Linked DNA regions of Homo sapiens: region 2 is linked to region 1. The links come from fine-mapping of genetic effects on gene expression. Tissue or cell type: lymphoblastoid cells. Region 1 holds a variant in brackets; the other region holds the start of a gene. All regions are shown on one strand. Distances are between the middles of the regions.

Region 1 (10,551 bases):
CAGTGGCTCACACCTGTAATCCCAGCACTTTGGAAGGCCCAGGCGGGCAGATCACTTGAGGTCAGGAGTTCAAGACCAGCCTGGGCAACATGGTGATACCTCATCTCTACTCAAAATACAAAAAAATTAGCTGGGTATAGTGGCAGGCACCTGTAATCCCAGTTACTTAGGAGGCTGAGACAGGAGAATCGCTTGAACCCGGGTGGCGGAGGTTGCAGTGAGCCGAGATCATGCCATTGCACTCCAGCCTGGGTGACAGAGCAAGACTCTGACTCAAAAAAAAAAAAAAAAAAAAAGAATTTCGTCCTTCTGTGTATATGTCTTCTTTAAGGAGCTACCCCATTCTGGGAAAGCACGGTTGGTACCATGTGAAAAGGTGCCCCCATCACCACATTTACAAAGCATGAGATCAGGAATTTAAAAGGCACCTTCACTGCCTCCCATCTGCCTCCCCCACACTTGTCTGATCCCCTCTTCCTACCACGTGTGTCCTCTCCTTCCTTCAGTTTCACACACGATCCAATTCTCTCAGCCCCCAGCATGGGTTGCCTCCTGGTTGTGCCTCCTTGACTCAGCCCATCCCTGGACAACAACAGCTCCTTCCATGGCTTTACTTAGCTCCCTGGACCTCGCCTTCCAGGTCTTCTTAAGCAGCTCAACCCACCCCTAGTCCCACCTTCAAGGAATGAACTTGTATAATATTCTCTCTGATCCTTTTGCAGTTATGCATAATGACTGGGTTTTCACGCTTATGAATGAGATGTGCCTCCCTCAAACATTGTTATATGTCAGCACATTATGCATCTGACATGAGAAAAAAAATTCTCCCTTGCTTCAAAACACTTTTGCAAATTCTCTTCTATGTGGAAAACAAACACAGAGAGGAAGTAGAGATGATGAATGTGGACAACTCATTTGAAAACTTGGGGTGAGAAGGAGAAAATTGAGATTGGGCTGTTCTTAGGGGGGATAAGGTGTGCAGGAGTAGACTTGCTTGCTGTACCCTATACCCATTCTCCCTCCTGGTACATTAATAGAGTCTCTGTGTTTAACTGGTATATTAGGGCATTCTTGTATTGCTATAAAGAAATACTTGAGACTGGGTAATTTATAAAGAAAAGAGGTTTAATTGGTTCATTAATTTATAAAGAAAAGATCTCATGTGAACTAAAGTGTGAGCTCGCTTATTACCAAAGAGATGATCCAAGCCACTCACGAGGGATCCACCCCCATGATCAAAACACCTCCCACCAGGCCCCACCTCCAGCATTGGGGATTACATTTCAACATGAGATTTGGGCAGGGACAAATATCCAAACGGTATCAACTGGGTACCAGAATAATGGCTGATCCCCAGCCTTCCTTGCAGCTAAGCATGGCCATGTTGCTAAATTCTGGCCTGTTGGGAGGTGATTGGAAGTCACACCCTCATGTGGAAGGGCTCTCCATCTCCCCATCCCTCTTTCCCGATGCTGCTTACAGCAGTGAGAGTTATCATGAACTGTGGAGACAAGGCCACCCCTAGGAATGGTGGAGTGAGGACCCTTAAGAAGCTGAGCTCCCTGCCACTAAGGTATTGCCCTGCCAGCTTATGTGAGAAATAAGTAAACTTTCATCTTGTTTAAGCTTTTTAAGTGGATTTGATTATTTGGGGACTTTATAGCAGTCAAACCTGCTTCCTAATTAATAGTGGTGGATAAAAGGATCTTCACTTTCTTATCTTTAATGAATTTTGAACGTAGTCTGATGCCAATTGGAAGAATCCGGGAAAAAGTGAGGTTGAAAATACAGAGTGATCTGGAGTGATGGTTAATGCAAGTGTCCTGAGAAGGCAGGAGGAAAGAGGTGAAAGGGTGTGGGGGCGCTGGCCTTGAGGGACTGCGCCACCTGGACAAGGGGAGGGCAAAATGGGAAGCTGGATTCAGGAGACTTGAGATTTGGCAGCAGGAAGTTGAGGCAGTTCCTGCCTCATGCTTCTGATTTTTCAGCAAAGCAGGAGGCAAGGTCCTCTATGGAGAAATCAATCCAGAGCAGGAAGGTAAACCTGACAGAGCTTATGTAAGGGCTCAGAGGTGGTAGCGTGGGCTGGGCAGCCCTTCCATGACTGTCTGCATTTATGTTGTCTAAGAGCACAAGAGCTAAAAACCAGACACTGTGACAACTTAACTCTATGTCAAGTACTACACAAGGTCATCACTGAATAGGACTTGAGAGTAAACATTTGTTCTATGATTTTGATCTTTAAAAATAAGAATATAGCTGGGTGTGGTGGGCACACACCTGCAGTCATAGCTACTGGAGAGGCTGAGGCGGGAACAGTGCTGGAGCCCAGAAGCCTTGGGCTGTAGCACACTGTGACCATTAGGTGTTTGCACTAAGTGGAGCGGGGGTGCCACCAGGTTGCCTAAGGAGGAGTGAACCAGCCCAGGTCAGAAACTGAGCAGGTCAAAACTCCTGTGTTGATCAGTAATGGGATTGCACCTGTGAATAGCTACTGTACTACAGCCTGGGCAACATTGCAAGACGCTGTCTCTAAAAAAAATAATAATAAGAAATAAATAAAAACTAAAAAAATATATAAAACAGGTTGAAAGCCTTATTCAATATATCCAATTTATCAAAATTTCTAGCTAAAATGTATTCATTGTCTGCAGTTTTCAAATTATAACAGGTCCTTTTGTTTTTTTAAAAACAATGGCACAATTAATGCCTAAATAAAACACCTATGAGTGGTATCGGGGCTCAAAAACCAATACCCCAAAATATGGCCATTTGTACATGTTGAACTGAAAAAGGAGCCTCAAGGTCTCTCTGACCTCCCCTTCCCCACCCATCTCTCCCAAAGCATAGGAGGACGCTGTTCTCTGAAGCTCCCTTTTCTGCCTAAAGTCTGCACCTACCAAAGATGAAAAGAATTGCCTTTAGCCCCTTCTCTGAGTTTTCATTAACTGAATCCATATTATAGGAAAAAAGACTAGTGTCTGCCCACACACCTGATGGACTTTTGTCACAAACCATTGTCCATTCTCTGGGCCCAACAAGCTTTGCCCCAGGCCATTGTATGTTCTTCAAGCCCATTGAATTCCCCTAAACATCATTTACTACTCCTCTAAAATCATCCACACTTCCCCATCGCCCTTTCCCCTGAGAAGAAGGGTATCTTCCTCTGAAGCAAGTTAGAGAAAAAAAAAGAATTAGACCATATAAGCCTCTACACCCCACTGGGGGGTTGGGTCTTCACCCTAAAGCCTCCCTTATCACGTTAACTCTAATAAAATAAATGTGTATGTTCTTCCTCCACTGAATCTGTCTTTTGTGAGTCGAATTTTCAGCAAATCTTCAGAGGGCAACAGTGGAGTTTTTTCCTTCACCCGAACAGTGGCCATTTTCATTGTGAATCTGGCATGGTTAGACGCGATGCTGAGCTTTTTACATGGCTTAGCTCTCCAAACTATAAAATAGGTGTTTTTATCCTTATTTTATAGACAAGGAAGCTGATGCCCAGAAACATTAAACAACTTGCCCCAAATCACACAGCTATTAAAGGGTCAAAATTTGAGCCAAAGTAGATCTGATTTCAAAATCTGTGCTCTTAACCACGCCCACTGCCTTCTCTTAGTGCAGGCCAGTCTAAGTTTTGCTGCCCTTCTAGAAAGTTATGGGATCTTTATGGAAACAGAATTTCTGGTGGCCTGCCTGATATCTCAGGGTGGCCAGCTGAGAAATCAGGTTAGACACACCCTCGGCCCCTCCCCATTCCAATTTGTGCTGCAACAAGCGCTGGCCTACAGCCCTGCACTTTCTTCACACTGCCAGGCATGTAGCACTACTGTGGGCTGGCAAAGACCTGCCTGCACCAGCAAGGGCCTCCGCCCAAAGTGTAGGGCAGCTGTGTGCAGGTCTGCACAAAAACAGTCTCCAACAACAACACCTTGTGGCAGCCACTGAAACAATCGTCAGGGGAGCTTCCCCATTCTCTCCATCAGACCTGCAGACACAGTACTGACTTCCTGGAACCAAGTGCTTAGGATTCTTAGGAGGTTTAAAGGGATGTTTAGATGATCAGATTTCCTGCTTATAAAGGTAGATGGGAGTTAATGATAAAAATGAGAAACATGGCCTTATTTGCACCTCAAGGCAGTCATACATTATATTTGTATAGATTGCTACCTCTGGGACTGTCCCCAGAACAGGACCCAGAACATGGAGACATGTGTCAGGTAGCCAACTGTCCTGGGCTGCCTGCTGTGTTGTCTCCTAGGACTTCTCCAGCTCCATTTACAGTCTGGCTCCTGGGCCTTTGGATCCCAGCAGTGTCCGAGCAGGAGCTCAAAGGACAGCCCCACCATGGGGGATCAGCCCTAGAAGCTGTCACTACATCTCCAACGGACGCAACTATTTTCCAGGTAATAAAGCTGCAGTGAATGCCACCTGTCAACTAGTTCCTTTCAAATTCTGACTTGGTTTGGTAAGTCTGTGGCTTGTTGTCATACCACTGGCAGAAAAGGCCCCTTCCCTGTAGTCAGACTGTAGAGGCCACAGGGGCTCTTCTGAAAGAGGAAGCAAGCTCTTTTCCAAGCGTTATTTTTATTTGTTGTACATTTTAGCAGATTAAGCACTTAGGGTTGGGATTTTAAAAATATTTCTTCTTTGGGCCAAGGAGTGTTTTCACACAGCTAAGTTCTTTGTATAAAGCTGCTCCAAATCCCTGACTAATTAATTCCTAAAGAAGCAGCACGTGGCTCACAATGACTGGCACCCCCTCTTTATAAACAGGAACACCGGGGGAGAGAGCCAACAACAGCACAGTGGCCCCGGACCGTGACCCTTGGACTGAAGGAACCTACAGATGTGGTTTTTTTTGGTGACATTTTACATGCAACTCCAGATTTCAAACTCTTTTGGAGAAGCAGGCAATCTGGCAACAGTCGTTTTGGATTCTCAGAAGGCAATAAAGAACAGCTGCCACCTTCCGAGGGGCACGGTGGATGCCCTGTTCTGCCAGAATTGCCAACACGTTTATCGTCTTAGACTTGCCCAAGGTGTCGCAGTTAGAGACTGCCTCCCTTATTCACGCTCCTGCCTGGTGCCCGTGGGCTTGAATTTGCTCCCCTTGGAGTGGGGTGAGGCTCTGCAGACACTTCTCATACACCTCCCCTGCAGACAGCAAGCTCCTGGAACACAAGTCACATGCATTTCATTTCCTGCTCTCTTGCTACCACCCAACATGGGCTCTCAATACATGTTGAAAGCAAGGATCAATGAATAAATGGGCAACTATCAGCTGTAGACTTGTATGTGCCAGGTATGGTGCTAGGCATGCTAGGCACCAAAAGGGCCACAGAGGTGTTACATGCCAGGATATCAGGGAGTTCATGACATAGTGAGGGAAAGAAAAAGCTTATGCAGTGTGTGTGTGAAACTTTAAGCAAACATGGTGCATAACAATAACAGGAATGACTTTGCCTGCCCCTGATGAAACTTCAGCAGGGCTATGCCCTGTCTTGCCACCTTTAGGAAACAGCAGTCTTATAGTCCTTTGCCCCTCTGAGTTACAACCACTGTCTCCTTTCAGGAGAATGCCCAGTGTTATATCATAATCAAGGCTTTGAACTTGATGTGGCATTACATGTTCTTCCATCTCCCCAGCCACCTGAGAAGGGAGATGGGGTAGCTTTTCTCTCTCACTCTCTCTCCCCCAACCCCTCCTTTTCCCACC[G/A]GCAGGTGAATGAGCTTCCTGCCCATAGGAGAAAGGGTAAAATCACAAGGTGGTGCCCTTGTCTCCAAATCTCAAGGTCCTCTGGATGGCAGGTGAGTAAAGGTGACTCTTGTGATTATGGGTGTTTTGGGTGTTCCTCAGAGATCCCCCAAACTGGGGTCTTGTCCACCATTCCCAGGACTCTGCCATGTGGAGCCATGGGAATGTGAAGTTCACCTCACACTTCCTTTCAGCTGAGGTCACCACACAGCCCCTACCAGCCCGGCTATATTGGGTGGGATTTCAGATGCCCCCACAATGGCTGCCTTGGAGACTTTCCACTGGTCCTCAAGAAGCAACAACGCTCCCCTTGCTCTGCCTTTGGTGGAGGGCAATTCCTCCTCTCTCTCTGCCTGGCCCCAGGCTGCTTCCACTGTCTCAGAAACTGGTCCCCGGATTCCCCCAGTTACAGAGAACCCTCATCAAGCTCTCAAGTGGCCACTGAAACCCAGGCTCTCTAGGCTCTGGAGTATGGAAGTGACAGCTCCATTTAATTTCTCCTTTCCTCTTGTAGGCTTACAGCATAGCACTCTCCCAAGAAATCATCCAAAAATTACCTCAACCATTCTATAGACCCCAAGCTGACCAGGGGAGGGAGGACCAAGAATCTTGAAACGTAAATACTACATTTGATGGTCTCCTTCAGACTTATTTTGGGATCTGATATCTCTTTAACAAAAATTATAAAAATTGAGGCAAAGAGAGCCCCATTTTTTATATACTGTTCTAATAAATAACAGGTACCCTTAGAAGAATGCAGACAAACACTCCTATGGAAATTTAAAGGAGCATAAGACTTCTTGCAGTATAGGGAGAGAACCAAGGAAGACTTCCTGGAGGAAATGGCCATTGAACTGGGCCTTGGACATGTGGAGGTGAGGGATGAGAGTATTCCAGATGAAGAGTCCAGCATAGGGAAGGCCCACAGGAAGGAATTGTGCTGTATTAATGCTGTCTTAGAGGCATTTCCATTGCCAGACACAGATACTCAAATTACTTCAGAGAGAGAGAGAGAGAGTATTGAAAGGGTTTCTGTGAATACCTCCACAACTGTGGTTCTCAAAGTGTAATCCCTGGGCCAGCAGCATCGGCATCACCTGGGAACTTGTTAGAAATGCAGATTCCCAGGCTGGGTGCAGTGGCTCACGCCTGTAACCCTAGCACTTTGGGAGTCCGAGGTGGGTGGATCACCTGAGGTTGGGAGTTTGAGACCAGCCTGACCAACATGGAGAAACCCTGTCTCTACTAAAAATACAAAAAGCCAGGTGTGGTGGCGCATGCCTGTAATCCCAGCTGCTTGGGAGGCTGAGGCAGGAGAATCGCTTGAACCCGGGAGGCAGAGGTTGCGGTGAGCCGAGATTGCACCACTGCACTCCAGCCTGGGTAACAAGAGCGAAACTCCACCGAAGAAAGAAGAGAGAGAGAGAGGGAGAAAGAAAGAAAGGAGAAAGAGAGAAAGAAAGAAAAAGAAAGAAAGAAAAGAAAAGAAAAAAGAAAGGAAAAGAAAAGGCAAATTCACCAGAGCCTTTGAATCAGAAAAGAACCCCCAGGGGCTGGTGGTAGCAGTCCTTGCACAGGCCCTCCAGGTGATTCTCATCCAGGGAAGCCTGCGAGCCCTTGAGGTGGAATATTCTCAGGAATCCCTGAGATATGTGAAGAACTGATGGCATAGGCTATTTCTAGGGAGGAAATGGGGCTGCTGGGTGCACAGATGAGGGGAGGTGGGAGACCTCTGTAATTGTGTACCATGTGCATATATTACCTATTCAGAGAATAATAAAACAATGCGTTTAATCCCCCGTCTTCCTCCATCTACTTCTCTCGTACCCCATAGCTGCTCTAGCACCTCCACCTCCCTCCTCAAATGGTGTTCTTTGCTTCCTAGGCAAGCTGGTTTTCTGTTCTCCCTTCCCCGGTCTTCTCTTGCCTGGTCTTTATTACAAGGTGTGCTAAGCCTCATAAGGACAGTTGAAGAGAAAAGAAGTGAGACTGTGCTAGTGGCTATAGAATTCTGCCAGGAGAGCTGGAGGTGGGGAGGAAGACTATGAATTCAACCATGCCAATAATTTCAGTCAAAAATTAAGAAAAAGCCCATCTCCGCCCCCTTTTCGGTTATCAAATATGCATTGTTTTCCTCTTTTGTTGGGCTTTTGTGTCTGTTTCATTCTCACCTTGACTCAGCCCCTGTGAGCTTCAACTCTAAGCCTAACTCCAGCCACGGAGAAACCACGGAGAGGTTTGTCCAGTGTCTGGAAGATGGACTGACTGCTGAAACAGGAGCAAGAAGAACCTCCTAGCAGGTCAGACATACCCAAAGACAGCCACATGGAAATGGACACTGTTGCAAGGACGTGTGTCCAGCAGAGCAGGGGCAAATGCCCCTGGTGCTATAACTCCTTAAAGGCTCAAATATCTCTGCTGACCCAGTGAGTGCCCCTCAGCTTGTGGTGTGAGACTGAACTTACAGACACCACCTCAACTCGAGGAATTCAATGCAGTGATGAGCTGATTTATGGTGTTTGCCAATTCCTGTGGTGTAAATAACTCATCGCATGGCCAGTTTCAGGCTACCAATGTGAAGTCACTGAACCCAAAGTTTGGAAGAGATTTACATAACAGTGGACATAGTTACTGGGCTTCATAGAGAAAGCTACTAAACACAAGTGCCCCTGGGGTCCAGAAATCAACTTCTGGTTGGAACTGACCTATATGGTGCCAAGTGTGCATCTTCTAGGAGGACACTAGCATTAGCATGTCATCCGCCAGTCTTGCAACAAGCCTTTTCCGTAAGAGCCTTTGACTAACATTTGTTGAATTTTGTATTCACTGGGGGCTGGACGTGGTGACTTATGCCTGTAATCCCAGCACTTTGGGAGGCCAAGGCGGGCAGATCACTTGAGGTCAGGGGTTCAAGACTAGCCTGGCAAACATGGCTAAACCTTGTCTCCACTAAAAATACAAAAATTAGCCGGGCGTGGTGGCACACGCCCATAGTCCCAGCTACTTGGGAGGCTGAGGCAGGAGAATCACTTGAACCCAGGAGGCAGAGGTTGCAGTGAGCCGAGATTGTGCCACTGCACTCCAGCCTGGGTGACAGAGTGAGACTCCATCTGAAAAAAACAAAACAAAACAAATTTTGTATTCATTGAGCCAACTAATTTATTGATTTTTCATTAAGTTTTTTTTTTCTTGAGATAGAGTCTCACTCTGTCACCTAGGCTGGAGTACAGTGGTATGAGCTTGGCTCACTGCAATCCCCGCCTCCTGGGCTCCAGCGATCCTCCCACCTCACCATCCTTAGTAGCTGGGAACACAGGCACGCACCATCACACCCAGCTAATTTTTGTATTTTTTGTAAAGACAGGGTCTCACTGTGTTGCCCAGGATGGTCTTGAACTCTTGGGCTCAAGCGATCTACCTGCCTTGGCCTCCCAAAGTGCTGGGATTACAGGCACGAGCCTCTGCGCCTGGCCTTGATTTTTCTGAGTGCTATGAAAGAAATAAGCAATTATTATGGGTTTTCCTCCTTTAGGATTAATGAGTCAGTGAAGGGCCAGAAGAAGGGTCCCTTGTAGAAAGTTGGGCAATATTTACACGTCATAATGAGGAGAGAGGCCATTTCTCTTACTGTCTCCTGTCTCTGAAGAGAAGGAGGAAGTAAAAGTTGAAAAACAACAGGAATGAAGTCAGTGGCAAGACCAGCCAGTGCCACTGATGACCAGGCCTGAGGTTAAAAGATTAACCCCCGACTCTAACCGCATGTGCTCTCAATCTATCACGACCCTTTCACATGGAACCCCTTAGAGTTGTAAGGCCTTAAAACTCTGGCTTCCTGGAGCTCGGTTCTTGAGACGCGAGTCTGCCAAAACTCCCCGCCGTTGAGACGCGAGTCTGCCGAGGCTCACAGCCCAATAAAGCCAAATCCTTCGTAGCCGGGTGTCTGAGGGGTTTTGTCCGCGGCTGTCCTGCTTCATTTCTTGGTTCCCTGACCAGGAAGAGAGGTGGTTGATGGACGGTCGAGGCAGCCCCTTAGGCAGCTTAGGCTTGCCCTGGGAAGTATTCCTACGGGGGACTCCGGCCAGCTTGAGCGATGCGGATCCTGAGAGCGCTCCAGGGTAGGCATTTGCCTCGGTGGAACGCCTCGTCAGAGCAGTGCACTGCAGGCCCCCGCGGAGGATCAATGCAGCAGCCGAACACCGGGAAGGAACTGGCGCTTGGAGTCTGGACATCTGGAATACGGTAGGCCCGGTCCTGGGAACTTGCCCACTCGATTTGAGTGGAAGCGTGGCCTGATCACCCACAGCCCACCTTTGTCGGCACTTTGGTTTTGGTTTTGATTCTTGACTTGGTTTGAATTGCTTAACAGGCTGGTTCTGGGAATTTGCCCACTCCATTTGAATGGAAGCGAGGCCTGATCAACCACGGTGTGCCCTTATCAGCACTTTGGTCTCAGTATTGATTTTGATTTGGCTTGACTCGTTTGCAAAAAGGAAAGTGAAAGTGAGTGAGTGCTTGAGTTTAAGATGGGCGAGACAAGTGAGTGACCCCTTTACCCTTTCCTTCTTGTGGTGGGAGTGTTGTTTTGTCTCGGGAGGAAGATGGGTGCAACGCAAAGTAAGCGCCCACTCCGCTAGGAACTATGTTGGAAAATTTCAAGGAAGGATTTAGTGGAGACTATGGAGTTACTATGACACCAGGAAAACTTTGTGTGAGATAGAGTGGCCGGCATTAGAAGTGGGTTGGCCATCAGAAGGAAGTCTAGACAGCTCCCTTGTTTCAAAGGTGTGGCACAA
Region 2 (7,775 bases), 42 kb after region 1:
TAAGAAAACTTGGAGCAACTGAACTAGAGGGTCTGGCCACTGCGGGCGGGGCATCCTGAAGAAACACTGCTTGTCAGAGTACAAAAGGATGCCTGGACAACCAACAACAGGAATAAAAAAAAGATTAAACGCTGCTTATTAAACGCCATTACCATATAGTATGTACACATCATGGCGTAATCATGTCTCTTTGGTGACGTTGGTGATTTCTTGATGTAGCCTGCCATCTGCCCTTGTTTTAAGGGTTCCCCTTCCTTGAGGCATTTGCATTTTAAAAGGAATCAAAGCCTGCAGGTGAAGGGATGATGCTGGATTGGTAGAATTTCAGGCATTCATTGAAAATGGATCAAGGGTTTTCTTTTATGTTGGCTCCTTCCCTAGGTTCTTGACTTCGGCGCCAGCCACGAAACCACAGAAAGCATCCCCCAGGACCTTGGCGTTGGACTCCTTTCATTCCCTTCCTCCCAAAGTGTCCCACTGTTGCTCTGACTTGGGGGAGCAGGGGTCTCCCTGGCCCTCCCGGCTGCTCCCGGCTCAGGAGCGTGGGAGGTGAGGGGAGGTGAGGGGACACGGCCGGGGGCGGCTCGGTAGGGGCCCCGCGCGGCCGCCAGGGGGCGCTGCGCCGCCGCCGAGGCCGCGGCCGCCTGGGCGTGTGGCCTGGCGTGGGCACTTTTGTGTTGTTTAGATGCCAGCGTTCGCCGCTCACTCCTTTCTCAAACATGTTTCTAATTTACCCAGTATGTCTTCTACGGAAAAAAAACTTCAGGGAAAAAAGATGCATGCTTAACGTCAGTGCCAGGGTGGGCAAAAAGGGGTTTTGACACCAGATGCAGGTTTAGTTCCCGAACCCTCCGGGCCTGGGGTGAGCCGCCAGCAGGCCCCCTCCACAGCCGCTCCTCCCGCTGGGGACAGAGGCGCCTGGAAACGCACACGCCCGAACCCGGCCGCCCCGAGAGCCGCGCGTGGAGCCAGCACGCCCGCAGGCGCTCCTCCTGAAAACGGGTTCGGTTTCTGGCCGGGCAGGTTCAGAGCCGGTGCCCAAGGAGGGGAAGGACGACGCGGCACAGAACCTGGCGCGCCCACGGAGGGGGCCTAGCCTGGGCTTCTGGCCTTGCCCGGGCACTGCCGGCACTCCCGGGGAGCAGAGAGGCGGAGGGGGCACTGTCCGTGCGCCGGGGGCAGCCACCGGGCACAGGGCGGGGTGGGGGAGGTGCGGGAGGAGAGGAGAGCCAGAGTCCGGTCTGATGGGGGTCGGGGGGGACGTGGGAAGCAACAAGCCTGACGCCTGCAAATAGAAGTCATCAGGAAAGAGACCTCAAGGCCCATTTGACTGCTGGGAGGTCTCCGGGGTGGGGTCCTGGGGGGAGGAGTGTCTGATTGGCGGCTAGGTTCTGTTTTTCAGACCAGATTAAAAAAAAAAAAAATTCCCCTGTCGCCTGGGGAGATGTCTCAGTCACTTTTCTCCAGCAGGAAGCTGCTTCATGTTGGAGCCTCCTGGGATTGGCAGAGTTAAAAATCCTTTAACCCAGGATGCCTTGGGCCTTTTGTTCAGCCCTGACAATAGAATTGGGTGGAGGGGGCTGGGAAGGCAAGTAGCTGGGTTAGAGATGCATCCGTGGGGTGGGGGTATGGGGAAGCTTGTGTTCAGCCACTGGGTACATGAAAGCAACTGTGTGTGTGTGTGTGTGTGTGTGTGTGTGTGTGTGTGTGTGTGTGTGTGTGTCGGGGGAGGGTATAAGGGAGCCCAGGGACACTGGGGCACCAGCTCGTTAACACGTGTGTATGAATGCCGGCTGTGCGCTTGGCAAATCCTTAATTACACAGGGAGAACTTCCTGAACCGGGAACTCAGTATCGGTCCCTGAAAGGTTGGGTAATGGCTTCTTCTTGCATCTGGAATCCAAGGGGACCAATCTCTCTGGCTCCCCTGGGCTCTCAGATTCTTCTAGATGTCTTTGTCTTCTAAAATTCTGGGATCCCAAGGGAAGACACATAGTTAAGGACACTCAGAAATGCATACCTTTCAACCCTACTAATCATCCTAAAACCTGTGCTTTCAACATATCACGTCCTTGATCTGTAACCCTCAGGGGCACCCACGATCTCCAATGACTGGGAGTGATGGCATTTAAGTCTTTCCACCATGCAGAAGTTTCTTCCCTCATTCCCCATGAATTCTCTCCTGTAGCCAGCCTGGCCCCTCATAACCCCTTGGATATACTGTATCTTGAATTCTCCAGCCTTTCTGCAGTTGCCTTCCTGGGACATTCATTCCCATGTTCACAATCTAGCCAATTGTATCCCTTCTCTATTCAGTTCTAGCATCAGTCAGTCAATCAACAAGCATTTATTGAAAGTCCACTATGTACAAGACATGTTCTAGGCCCTGGTAATACATCAGAGACTGAGACAAATACCTGTTCTTAAGGATTTTATATTTTAATGGGAGAAACAGAGTAGACTCATGGCTCACGCCTATAATCCCAGGACTTTGGGAGGCCAAGGCAAGAGGATCACTTGAGGCCAGGAGCTCAAAACCAGCCTGGGCAGCAAGTGTCTTCTTTTGCCTCTGCAAAAGAAAATTAAAAATAACAAAAAAAGGAAGCTAAACTAGAGTATTGTGGTAGAGGGGTGTGTGTGTGTGCATGTGGGTGCATCCGTGTGTGTGGTAGGTTGATGGGTGCTGTTTTATTTAGCCAGGGAAGGTCTCTTTGAGGAGGTGGCATTCGAGACCTTCTGGGTGGGAAGGAGGCAGCCATGTGGTGATCTGGGGAAGAGTGCTGCAAGCAGAAAGGCAAGTAAAAACAAAAGCCCTGAGGCAGAAATGTGCTCCTTATGCTTAAGAAACACCGTGAAGGCCAACGTGGTTGGAGCAATGTGAGCAAGAAGAATAGAGGGGCCTTGGGAACATAGGTAGCTGAGTCCTCATGGATCAAGGTAAGAAGTGTGGGTTTTATTTTGTTGCAGTGGGAAGCCTTTGGAGGGTTAGAAGGTGGGGAGTGAAGAAAACAGTTAAGATACTATTGCAAAAGTCCTGGCAGGAGGAGATTTTAAAAACCACAGTTGTGGCTATGGAGATGGTGAGATGTGATACTGGTTTCTGGGTCAGTTTTGGAGGTGGGAATAGATAAGGCTTACTGATGATCTGACCCAGGACTAACTGGGTAGTCCTATGTTGGGGGTAGGAGGTGGATCCATAATTGTGTTTGGGCCATGCCAAGACCTATCAGACATCAGGTAAATATGTGTAGACAGCTTTGAGTCTGGAGTTCAGATTTAAATTTGAGAACCAGCATGTAGGTAGTCTTCAAAGCAGTAGGCCAGAATAATTCCACTTAGGGAGAGAGTCAAGAAAGAAGGTAGCAGATGGCTGAGACTGATGCCACTCCAACCTTTAGAGATCTGGTAGGGGAAAACCCAGCAGAGCAGACTGAGGAAGACAGCCCATGACACTGGAGGAAAACCAGAAGATGGTGATTACAAGGAACTCAGCAAAGGAAGTATTTTGAGAAAGAGGATGTATCAGTCTGCTATTGCTAGGTAACAAACAACCACAAAAATCTCAATGGCATAACAGTAAATATTTATTTGATTCACAAAGCTGTGAGTCAGCTGGAGGTTGGCTAGATGAGGCTGATGTTGGCTGGGCAGCTCTAAGCCACCGTTGGGCTGAGCCTGCTCTGCATACATGTCCCTCACTCTTTTTGTACCTGCAGGCCAGCTAGGGCACATTTTTCTCCCATGGTGATAATAGGCACAAAAAAGCAGGTGGAAACATAAAATGCCTCTAAAGACCTAGATTTGGAACTGGCACCATGTCACCTCCTCCTACATTCCATTGGCCAAAAGGGGTCATGCAGCCACGCCCAAAGTCAAGGGGCAAGAAAGTACAGTATAGTCTACATCTAGCGGGAGGGACTGCAGAGTCGGATTGAAGGGGATAGGGATAGAGTGAGGCAGGACAAGAAATAGGACCCATAATTCAGTCTTCCACAGAGAGAGTGGTCAAACGCATTCAGTGCCACTGACAGGCCAGATGAATAGAGGATGGTGAACTGGCCACCAATGTGACCTTAAGATGTCAGTCATTGGCATCCTTGATAAGAGCTATTAAAACAGACAACTAGGGCTAAAAGCCCAGTTGGAGTGGGTGGAAGTGAGAATGAGAAGTGTGGAGGTGGAGATGTCAGTGTGTAGACAACTCTTTCAGGAACAGTCACTCTAAAGAGGGGCAGAAACATGGTATAATAGCAAGAAGGGGATATGAGGCTAAGGCTTTAGAGCTTTTTAAGTCCCATTTAACTTCCATGGAAAGGCTCTGGTAGGAAGGAAGAAATTGATGAACACAACAGAAAGGGGATAATTGTGCTGGCAAAAGGGGATGGGGCCCAGGGCACAGATGGAGGGCTCGGCCATGGGTGGTGGGTGGAGAGAATGCAGAGCTATAGGCATTCTGGTGGCTTTGGAGGGAGGTAGGAAGATCCGGCAACAGATCGTACCTACTTTCTCTATGAAGGATAGTCTGAGGTTACAGTGAGAATGAAAGAGGAAGGGGAGTTGAGAATATGCAGAGAGAGGAGAAAGTGTGACATTATTGCACTGCGGAGAGGGAAAAGGAATTTTCTAAGTAACTGTAGTAGGATTGTCCAACAGTTCAAATGCCTGTTTGAAATTTATGGCCAGAAATTTGAATTGAGTCCATCCAGAGTAGCTGGCCGATTTTCTTTAGTGGTGTTCAATTGCTCAGGTGCAGGTGTGAAGTAAACAGTTTGATTTAACCACAGCTGGGTTTTCGCCCAGTGAATACAATGGAGAGAGACCAGAGCAAGGAAGGTAGGAGTGTTTGCCAGGGAGATTTTGTGTGCTGGAGCATGGAGTTTCAGTTCTCAGCTGGCTGAGAACGAAGGCCTGAGGGGAGAGATGTCATGAGAAAACAGGAGAGTCATGGAATAGAGGTCTGAGATGGGAAAATTGCTGAGTCCAAGAACTAAAGTAAGTGACCTGGAGGACTGATAGGTGAAGGGATCTCTGGATCTGAGAGTTTAGAGATGGTGTAGACATTCATGGTTCCAAGATCTAGCATATGACCAGGAGGCTGAGGCAGGGCAGGAGGAATATTCTGCTAGGGCTAAGGATATTAACAGTCTTAGAGATCGGAGTGTTGGGTGGGTCATCAGCATAGATGCTGAAGTCACCAAAAATGATGATATGAAAGGAGATAGAGCCTGATACTAAAATAATCAAGGGTTGGGGGAAGTGACTAGGAGGGTGACAGATGACATTAGGAGGGGTGATTTGTGGCTTTTTTAATTAAATATTTTTAATTTTTAATACTTTTTAGAGTAGTTTCAGATTCACAGCAAAATTGAGTGGAAAATCCAGAGTTCTATATATCCACCCTCCTGGGAGCAGTGTCCCCCACTATCAACATTCCCCACCAGCATTTGTTACAATTGATGAACCTAAGTGACACATTATCACCCCGAGTCCACAGTTTACATTGATGTGAATGCTTTATTCTTACTTTACATTACTTTTGCTGTTGTACATTCTGTAGGTTTGAACAAATGTATTATGACATTTATCCACCATTATAGTATCACATCTAGTAGTTTCGCTGTGCTAAGAGGCCGGGCTTTTGAAAGAGGAAGGAGAAACCGTTTAGAAACTTCAGTGATCAATGCGGAGTACATCTTCAGGCCCTGAGCTGCATAGCTGGAGGGAGAAAAGAGCCTCTACTGGAGAGGGCTATAGGGCAGCAGTGTCCTGGGGGCAGGTGGGCTTCTGGAAGAAGAAAGTGAGGGTCCTAGTTTTGGAGGAGCTTGAGAGTAGAGGCCTGGGGTAAGACTGGGGAGCGCAGGCAGGGTGGAGGCAGGGTTGGCTGCTGGGTGCTCAGCAGTGTGGGGTCGGGCATGTGTGCTGTGGTGAGTGGGGGCGGCTGGGGCAGGTGGCAGGCCCTGGAGGGAGGTGGCAGGTCGGATACCCTCACCTCGCCCTGTTGTGGAAGCTTTCCAGAAGACTTTGGGGAAAAACAGACTTCCCTTTCCAGGAACCCCTCTAAATTCGGTTGGTCGTGGTTCTCGGGGTTTATTATGTCCTTCCCGGTATCTCCAGCGTTCTTCTTCTCTGTGGATTTCTTATTTCCTCAATTAGACGAACGTTTGGGCAGGAACCCCAGCTCTACCATTTTACACCCGCTCAAGTGCAATACAGCACTTGACACATCATGTTTGTTGATTGCGTTGGATACAAGTGCGGTTTGGTTTCCCTTCCCGGCCAGGAATCCAAGAATGCACCCTCACCCCGCGGCTGCCTCCCGGGGCCAGCTGCCGTGCTGGTCCCCGGTAACCCGACGCCGGGCCGCTCCCCCTCCCGCCCCGGGGCTGCGGCCGCCAATGGACGCAGCCCGAGCCTCCGTCTGGGCCATGGGCCCCTCTCGGCGCCGCCCCCGCTGGGCTGGAGCGGGGGTGCCCGAGGCAAAGGGCCTGCAGGCGCGCGAGCACAAACCGGCTCCAGTTCCTAGCCCCTGCTCGCCTCCCTCTTCGTGTCCCGGCCCCGGCCCCGCCGGGACACCTCTGCCCCCTGCCTCGAGCCCAGGAGGCCAGGCTGCCGCCCCAGGGCGCCCGGGCAGTCGCAGACGGCGGCCTCCAGAGGGCCACGCCGGGGCCTCTCCCAGCCCGGGAGCCAAGACACTTGGCTCTGGCCTCTCTCCACCGTTTGATCTGCCCAGAGACCTTGGGCGGTCCGAGAGCCTCCGAGCCTCAGTCTCCTCATCTGTAGCTGGGGCTGGGCCCTGCGCACCTCTGAGTGGAGTGATGCAAGGGTGAAGGGTGTGAAAGTCTCCCTGTGTTGCCCAGGGGTCAAGGTCAAACCCAAGACACAGTGCCGCCAGCAGCTGCCCCGCCCGCAGCAGCTGCAGAACCGCAGCTCCTCCTGCCACCATCCAGGGAACTCCCTAGCTCCAGAGGAGGAGCCTATCAAGGGCACTTGGCTTTCCTCCACGTCCCCGGCACGGCACGAGGCGTTTCCTGCAGCTCCTAACTTCCAATGTAGAAATCAGCTCCGGGTTTCAGCAACCCTGGGAGAGGAGGCTGGAAATAGACGCTGGGCCAGCAGGAAGGTGCACAGGCGGGACACCTTTCAGCTGCCTGTTTCATCTCCCGTACATGATACTTGCTAGAGTGTAATAAGTGTACCAGAGGAAACACTCACTGACAAAGCCTATTTTCTCCCCAGATGGTTACAAATGCACATTCTTGAGTGACCTTCTACAGGCTACAAATACTGACGTATTTATACTGTACCTTGGGTCATGGTACCCAAAAGAAAAGCAAAGCAAAGGAGAGCTCAGAAAATACATTCTAGTCTCAAAGAGGAAGGAAGACAAAAGAGGATGTCTTTGTCAGTCTGCATTATGTTAACATTCATAGCCTCCCGTCACCCCCCATGATGGCAGGGCACAGGTCACCTATGGTGATGGGGACATATGAAGTTCCCTGAGTTCTTCACTTCTGTGTCATGTCCTGAACGGAATCCCAAGTTAGCTCCTGGAACCCGCAGCCTTGGCTCACACCAGCAATGTCACAGAGGTAAACTGCTCTCGCTTCCCTGAGCTTGGACTTCAGGGCCTGGCAGCCCCACCAGGCCCTCACCCTGGATGAATCCAACAGTAGGAAGTGACTGGGGAGTCCCTGAGCAGACAGAGGGAGAGGTGCCCACCGGCCCAGGCCTGATGTTCTTATGAATTCTTTTGGTTCCAGACCTTTTTGGCCTTGC

Alleles and levels. Alleles are on the strand shown, and positions count from the first base shown. SD is a standard deviation of normalised expression in the study named.
As copies of A replace G in region 1, the expression in lymphoblastoid cells of the gene that starts at base 2,719 in region 2 goes down (small effect, 0.28 SD a copy in TwinsUK).

Evidence for each region. PIP is the estimated chance that this variant, and not a neighbour inherited with it, causes the effect.
Region 2: LINC01800 starts here. The variant in region 1 is fine-mapped to the expression of LINC01800 in lymphoblastoid cells (TwinsUK, PIP 0.95).

The regions. Positions count from the first base shown.
Region 1 is chr2:64,898,846-64,909,396 of GRCh38, reverse strand. LINC02245 (long intergenic non-protein coding RNA 2245) reads left to right here. Exons shown (of 3, transcript NR_036586.1): 2 at 4,262-4,406; 3 at 4,777-7,557. LOC124906172 (small nucleolar RNA U13) reads left to right here and starts at 711; the gene lies at 711-810. It also overlaps the pseudogene RN7SL211P. RefSeq lists an enhancer at 4,608-4,902 and a silencer at 5,095-5,289. The variant G/A (reference allele first, on the strand shown) is at 5,720.
Region 2 is chr2:64,858,575-64,866,349 of GRCh38, reverse strand. It overlaps LINC01800 (long intergenic non-protein coding RNA 1800), which reads left to right and starts at 2,719. Exons shown (of 5, transcript NR_110224.1): 1 at 2,719-2,936. RefSeq lists silencers at 533-732, 6,241-6,444, 6,204-6,723, 6,761-7,055 and an enhancer at 5,694-5,913.